Homo sapiens: one gene and its partner. The protein of the gene in region 1 purifies or fractionates together with the protein of each later gene. This does not show direct contact. Each region holds a gene or a part of one and is shown on either strand. Other genes may lie near its edges.

Region 1 (3,829 bases):
CACCTGTGGCATCATGTTAACACTCAAAAAGTTTTGAATTCTGGAGCATTTTGAACTTCATATTTTCTGATTAGGATTGCTATGTATATATATCCTTTGAGTGTCATATTGGCACTCAAAAAAAAGTTTCAAATTTTGGAGCATTTTGGATTTCAGATTAGGAATGTTCAACCTGTATTATCATATATCATATTATTATTGCATTCCTCTCATTTAATCCCTAACAAGCATCCTATGAGGATGGTACTATGATTATTAGTCCCATTTTACAGATGAGAACACTAGAGTCAGAGGGATTAAATGAGAATCATGTAACTGTTAAACTGCTAAGAGCCAGGGTTCCAACATTCCAACCCCCCAGGGCTTTTCTCAAAGCACCACACTCCTCTGATAATTAGCACCCAGGAGACTTCAGTAAAAAATGTAAACACTGAGGTTTCAACACTAGTCCTATTATTTTAAAATTAATCAAATTTAATATTTGATTAATATTAATATACACACACACACACACACACACACACACACACACACCCACACACACATAAAGGACAGGTGCACACACATGTTGGGAAAATTGGCTCCAATTTTTTTCCCTGAAAGGAGTACAGGAAAAAGAAGGTACAGATAGTATGGCAGGAAAACCTATTCACGAGGAAGGCCAGCTCACGTACCTGTTCTACAATCATCGCCCCTAAGTCCCTGAATATTTCATTCAGGTCAGAAATGGACTGTACAATCTGGCGAATCTCTCGTTCCCGCTCTTCCACCATCAGTGTGTTCTGCTCCACCAGAACTAACTGGTCCTCTGTAAAACCCTAGCAAGACAGTGCACAATGTGTTGGATAGATTGTTTTCCCTCTCAGGAAAGCTATGGTATACTTGTTTAGATATAATTTAAAGACAATGAAAATAATTTAAAGAAAATGAATTCTGAAAATATTTCTACAAAGCACAGTAAGCACTCATTTTTCCCTAACAGGAAAGATTCAAATTCCCTAAACCAGCAGGATCTAAAGCTCTGAGGCCATAGCAGGGAAGACAGAAGCCCACGTCTGCCAACTCCACAAGGGCAGATAAACAAAACCCCCGGGATAGCCCTCTGTTTCTCTGGGCTCTTCCTAAGAAGGCAGGGTGTTGACCACTTTCCCAAAGGCTCTGGAAAGCAGATTACAAGGTCTCCCTGTGGCCTTTGGAAAGGAAGAAACAGTACGGCTGTTCTTCCACCTGCTGCAAAACAACCTGATGAATATACAAGTCAACTGTATCAATCCACTGACACTGCACAGAAGATCGAGGTCTAGGAGGTGAAAGATGCAGAATGGGGTGCACAGACACAGCAATCAGCTTTGCAGCCCGTTCACGTACCCGATGGTAAAGAGTGTTATCGTCTCCATCATCCATTAGTGGTACTGATGTGTCGAAAAAATGCTGGGATCTTTCCTCTCGATTCTTCATGCCTATCACAGATAGGAATTCATTTTACTTGAATATGTAAACCATCCTGAGTATTGTTCTACCATTAAAAGGGGGAATTCTAGAGTAAACTCCAACAGTCAAAATTGAGATATTCTTAGCCGCTTTAAAGAAGCCTATCTCCAATGGGGGTGGAGGGAGAGTAAAGGATTACAAACATACAACAATATGCAGGCATTTGGGATTACTCAAGACAAAAGTCACAGTGTAAATGTGCACAATTCACTTGATGCCAAGATAAAAATGACACAACCATCTGAGAATCTCTAAGTGAAGCAGAAATATTTAATCTAACTGCTGTTACAAAACATTTTAAAAAATCAGTATTTCTCTCTAGAAGCATCTCTAGTATGAATTCCATATGGCCCTAATCAAATTTTGGAAATAATAAAATTAAAATACAAATATGCCAGTTGTCAGAGGGAGGGAGAACTAGGTTTTTTGGAGTATGTGGGGACTTTATTGATTGCAAGGGCAATTTTAAAAAACCCAGTTTACAGGGTGATTAGAATGAGAAGAGAGCTGAAATCTGGCTTTGCACTATTTGGGAAGAAAAGGTCTGCTGGGTGAAACCTGTGGTGCCAGCAGAGGAAGTGTTTCAAGGACCCTGGGGAGGTTTTCTCAGGTGCTCTCAAACACTTTGGTTGTTATGCAAATATGTGGCTTTCAGTAATAACAACTGCTTTTTACCTATTGAAGAGCAGCTCTCCCAAACCCCAACATCCAGAAAACAACAGGTTTTTAAAATGTGCTTGGTTGATTTTCAAATTCTTGCAGCTTGACACAAAACAAATTTTGTTTGCTGAGATGCTGAACTATCTTGGTGCCCTCCCCCAGCCTTGGTCGGTACCCCACGCTGTGCCTTCATTCCAAGCCAGGGTTTCACATGGGGAGGAGGCTTCCCTTTACTGTACAAGGTATGAGCATGTTCAAAAGCTAACAATGAAAGGTACTGGACTAAATGAAAAAATAGTGGCAAAAAAGAAAACATAAAGTGCTTTTCTTACTCAAAATCCCTTCACTAGGCCCGGGCAGCACTCACGTTTGAGGTAGCCTGACTGTGCGTGCCGGAAGCTGGTGGAGAGTTCCTGCAGGGCCTGCGCCAGCGAGGCCACCACGTTCCCAAGCAGCCGCCCCTCCTGCTCGGAGCAGGCCCGGGCCCGGCTCGGCAGGGCCTGCACGGCACGCTGGCACCTGTGGAAGAGCTAAGAGAACAAGCCCGAGGCTCAGGGCAAGCCTGGGAGAGAAGCCCCTCTGCTAACACTGCCACATCACAAGCCAGAGTGAGAAGTGAGAGGCTCTGTTCACTCAGTCTGGTTTAGAGAAAGGTGAACAGATAAAAGGAATCTGTGGCTTCATTTATATACACAGAAAGATTTCACTAGATTTCAGCTCCTGCTATGTAGGGCCTGCTGTGTGCCCAGCTGCTCACATATCATCACGTTAGACAGGCTGAGTATCCCTCATCCGAAATGCTTGGGATTGGCAATGTTTAGGATTTCAAATTTCGGGAGATTTTGGAATATTTGCAGAATACCTACTAGTTGAGTACCCCAATCTGAAAATTCGAAATCCAAAATGCTCCAATGAGCATTCCTTTGAGTGTCATATTGGCACTCAAAAGAAAGTTTCAAATTTTGGAGCATTTTGGATTTCAGATTAGGAATGTTCAACCTGTATTATCATATATCATATTATTATTGCATTCCTCTCATTTAATCCCTAACAAGCATCCTATGAGGATGGTACTATGATTATTAGTCCCATTTTACAGATGAGAACACTAGAGTCAGAGGGATTAAATGAGAATCGTGTAACTGTTAAACTGCTAAGAGCCAGGGTTCCAACATTCCAACCCCCCAGGGCTTTTCTCAAAGCACCACACTCCTCTGATAATTAGCACCCAGGAGACTTCAGTAAAAAATGTAAACACTGAGGTTTCAACACTAGTCCTATTATTTTAAAATTAATCAAATTTAATATTTATAAAAAATTTTTTCTAGGATACTAAGTTGTTTTTTCAATTATGAGGACTATAATTTAGCATTGAAATTTCTTAACACTAGTATACGATATTAGTTATACATTTTAAAATCAAATGATTGAACTCGATAATGTTTGAAATTTCATATTTACTTAATCCGTCCACAGCAGTTATCTGCCAACAATTGAAAAACAGTCCCCATACCTCCAAGGCCTCACAGGTACCTACGCTGACAGCTGGAGGACTTCAGGGCCTCTTGAGGTCCCTCTGAGAACTTCAGGTTGGGAAATGACTCCAGGAGACTGATTCTGAGTAACACTCTAGTTTCTGAGATTGCCATGAGAAGGCTCGCTGGTTTCCCCAGGACTC
Region 2 (3,829 bases), on another chromosome or scaffold:
CATACATTTCTCTATGATAGTGGAAATTTGCTAGGCCTCTAAAACAAAAGATGTACTCAAGACATGTATGAATATTTCCAGTGGAGATTTTCAAATTAAAAAACTTTTTTCCTGCCACTTATAGTCCAAATACATTACAGAAATTAAATGATAGCCTAATTCCAAACAGAAACATATGATTAAATCTGCAAAGAATACATATATAGAAAACTTAAAACTGAATTTCTAAAACTATGACATGACATTTCTATTGCTTCTGTGAAAAAAATAATTTTAAAAAAACCAAACCTGCCATATTCGTGTAAGTCCATGTTCTAATTTCTTTTTTATGTAGCCACGATCAAAATTAGTTTCTTCAGTACCTATCATATTACTCCCTTCTGAAAATAAAAGACAATATATATTTTTAGATTTAATCCAATTTGTGTTTGTTTTCCAAATAATTTCTATTTGGCCTCTCACACATTGTAAGTCTATGTAAGATACAGTAAATATGTTTGATATTTATACAATCAAAACAATATCAAACAATAGGTATTAGACTTAAACCCATTTGGTGAGACAAATAAACGTAGACTATGAAATGCTAAATATACCTAAGACCACTGAGATCATATGTGACTGAGTTGGGATTCTACCTGAGTCAGTGTGGTCCCAGAGACCAGGTTCTCAATACTGCCTACTGCAAGACCATGTAAAAGGCTGTGAGAAGGGCATTACAGGACCAATTAACTGAATTATCAATTAATATGCGTGCTAAGAGGATAGTCTACATTAAAACTCAGGCGTGAGGTGATAATGCATATATTTTATATTTTTCATGATAAATAATAGTTTTATCCACTCCAGATAAATAATTTAACAATGTCTAGTTTAATAGATAAGATCAGTGATCTGCCTCCAATCTCCGCCCTAAAGACAACTGAAAAAGACACATACACATTTATATTAAAAAGATGAAACTTTTGTGTGAATATCCTGTGAAGAACAACTAAGTGAGTATGTTATCATCTTGTCTTAGGTTGGGAAGTTATCCACTGATAACCAGTAAAAGGTCCTTGGAAATGCCAGGCCTCAGATACACAGATGCATGACAAGTTTGCCTCTGAGCACTCCTAAAACGTAAGCCTTATTATTACACCCATGGTATGGCTGTTAGGGATCCAGCAGCCTAAGGCAGTGCACCTGAACTATAGCTTTAGAGCTTTACCTTAGAACGTTAAAGTATTAGGTTACCAAACAGTATCAAATATTATCACTAAAGAGATACAGCAGATAAAGTCTAGAGTCCTCTTCAGTTTTATGAAGTTCCATGAAAAGTAATTTTCAATTTACTAATTTCTACAATTTTATTCCTGAATATAAAAGGATTAATTTCAGGTGAACAAGTAACTTTTTATAGTCCTAGATACTATCAGCTGACAGCTTGAGCACTTGAATATCCATAAAATATACAGATTAGGCAAAGAGGGTTGAGTAATAAGGATCAGATAGAGTTTTCACTTTGACTCAGTATTCCAACGAATGTAAACTATTGGCCTAAAGCAAAAAGCAAGCTTTACCATGATGAATATATACATAACTGTCACCTAAATTCTGATATCTAAAATATGTGTTAATTCTATTCCAAACGTTTTCTTTGGTTTCTCCTTAAATAATGTACTAGAAAAGCAAATATGTCTTAACAGTCTCCAGGTATTTCACTATTATTATATTATCTCTTGATCCATTTCATTTCATCATATTAACCACCACCAATATAAGTACCTTACATGCTGTCCAAACTTTACAACAACCCTGCAGGGTAGATGCGTTACTACTCTAAGGGTTTGGTTTGGTTTTGCTTTGCTTTTTAACTGACCAATTTTAGGAGCAAACTGAAGAATGGGAAAAATAAGCAGTGTCTTCAAGTTCTCACCTTTGGTAAATAGAAGTGAAAACTTGAAGCCAGGCCTCTCAGATCGCAGAGCTCATGGTCCCAGGGGTAGTACAGGGTAAAAGTATAAGTTTTGGGTAAAAGTAGTCTGACCTGGAATCCTGGCTGTGTGCCCAACCTTCTCTCTGCCTTTCTCTCCCTTCCTTTACTCTCCCCAACAATATTTCCAAATGGATAAAAATCCATTCATGGAATTTTCCTCTTATTTTGTTTTCTATATTTACAAGCTTCTTGTAAGTCAAGACAAAGATTAAACCTATGCCTTCTAAACTACCAAAACATTTAATCAAACAGTGAGATTTGGGTGTGTTGTCCACTCACCCAACAACAGAAAATAAGCCCCTCAGAAACTGGAAGTTTATTAAAGTAACTTGATTGAATAGCTACAATAAATTGTATATAATACAAAAAAAAAGATGTGCAGTATAATTTATTTTATCCATATTAAACAAAATGCTGATAAAATCATTTACTGTTTTTATAAGTATTCTGAATATTCAATCTCAGCTACTGTTCAAGGATAATCAGTTAAGATATATAATTATACAAATGAAGCAATTTAAATAGAATGATTAATAAATACAATAATTTTTCAAAGACGTATTCTTTATTATTTAGCTGACTGTACCACAGTCATTTAAAGTTATATTTTCCATTCAAAGATGAATATTTTAAAACATCATTTTGAAAATGAAATTCTAGTCTTGCTTCATTTTCAGGAAGGAAAGTATCAATATAATTAATTCTTAGAACCTAGCTTTATTACTGTAACTTGAAAATTGGCTAAATAGATTAATATTGACCATCTAGCATTAATTTCACAGTAAACTTAGACAGACCAATGTCTTATCTAGTTTGCAACTAATAATATTAACAACAACAAAAATTTATAAATTCAGTCCTAAAGCCATCAGCACACACTTCTGGAAACTAGTACTATGTGCCACTTAAAAAGTCCTTTGGCCCAGTTACTCTCTAAAGGTAATAGAACATTTGAAGTAGCTGAATCACTTTCTTTGCTCAATATTTAGCCTATGGTCACTGTAATCTTTGAAATCCCAAAGGCATTCCTGCCCCTTTCCTTTCTTCTTACTCCAGTAATGTGGGATATTTATAGTTCAATTTTTAAAATAAAATAAAAATATTTTCCTACCAGAAGCTGAAGCAGTATCCTCATTGTCATGCTTTTCATGCCATTCCATAGTCCTATAATAGCTGAGCATAACTTCCCATAGTGCTTTGCACAGGTCTGCAAGGCATGGAATATAGCTGTCTGGTGTAACATGCTAAAGAAAATGATAAGAGACAACTTTCAAATTATTATGTTTACTCTAACAGTTATAATAAAATAGGTTATTAATCAAATATATTCAAAAATTAGAAATAACCAAGAAAATTTCTTCAACTGACATATCTAAAGAGAAAATTCAATGGGGAGAAAAAAAATTTTTAAATAATTCCCATCTCAACATGGCTTTTTCGTACACATTAAGAATATCAGCCCATATGCTGTGAATCAATCTGTAGTTACAGAACCATAAAGAAATTACTGAATTAGCAACTGGTCCCATAAATAGCAGTGTAAACATCCCCAAATGCATTTTTTGAAAGACATGATCCTAAACATGCAAATACAGCTTTACATAGCCTGGACCTCAGGCCTTCTTGCAAAAAGAAGGTTGGATTTACAATTCTGTCATTTCATTTGTGTAAATTAAGTAAACATCTTTGACAATCTCTAAATTTTTAAAATCGTATGGAATAGATATTCTATATCTGACAATAACATTTTAAAATAACTTCTAACATAAACAAGGCTATGAAACAATATATGAACTCAAATACTCTCCTTAATGGAAGTGCATGAATTTTGCTTCCCTTTGTAAAAACAAC

What was found.
Region 2: the proteins of STX16 (region 1) and VPS50 purify together in Homo sapiens (pull-down; one study listed by IntAct). This does not show direct contact.

The regions. Positions count from the first base shown.
Region 1 is NC_000020.11:58,668,143-58,671,971, reverse strand, and holds part of STX16 (syntaxin-16), read right to left. Parts: intron 2,682-3,829; coding exon 2,519-2,681; intron 1,461-2,518; coding exon 1,369-1,460; intron 819-1,368; coding exon 675-818; intron 1-674. UniProt on the Homo sapiens protein: SNARE involved in vesicular transport from the late endosomes to the trans-Golgi network.
Region 2 is NC_000007.14:93,291,096-93,294,924, reverse strand, and holds part of VPS50 (syndetin), read right to left. Parts: intron 3,223-3,829; coding exon 3,090-3,222; intron 381-3,089; coding exon 289-380; intron 1-288.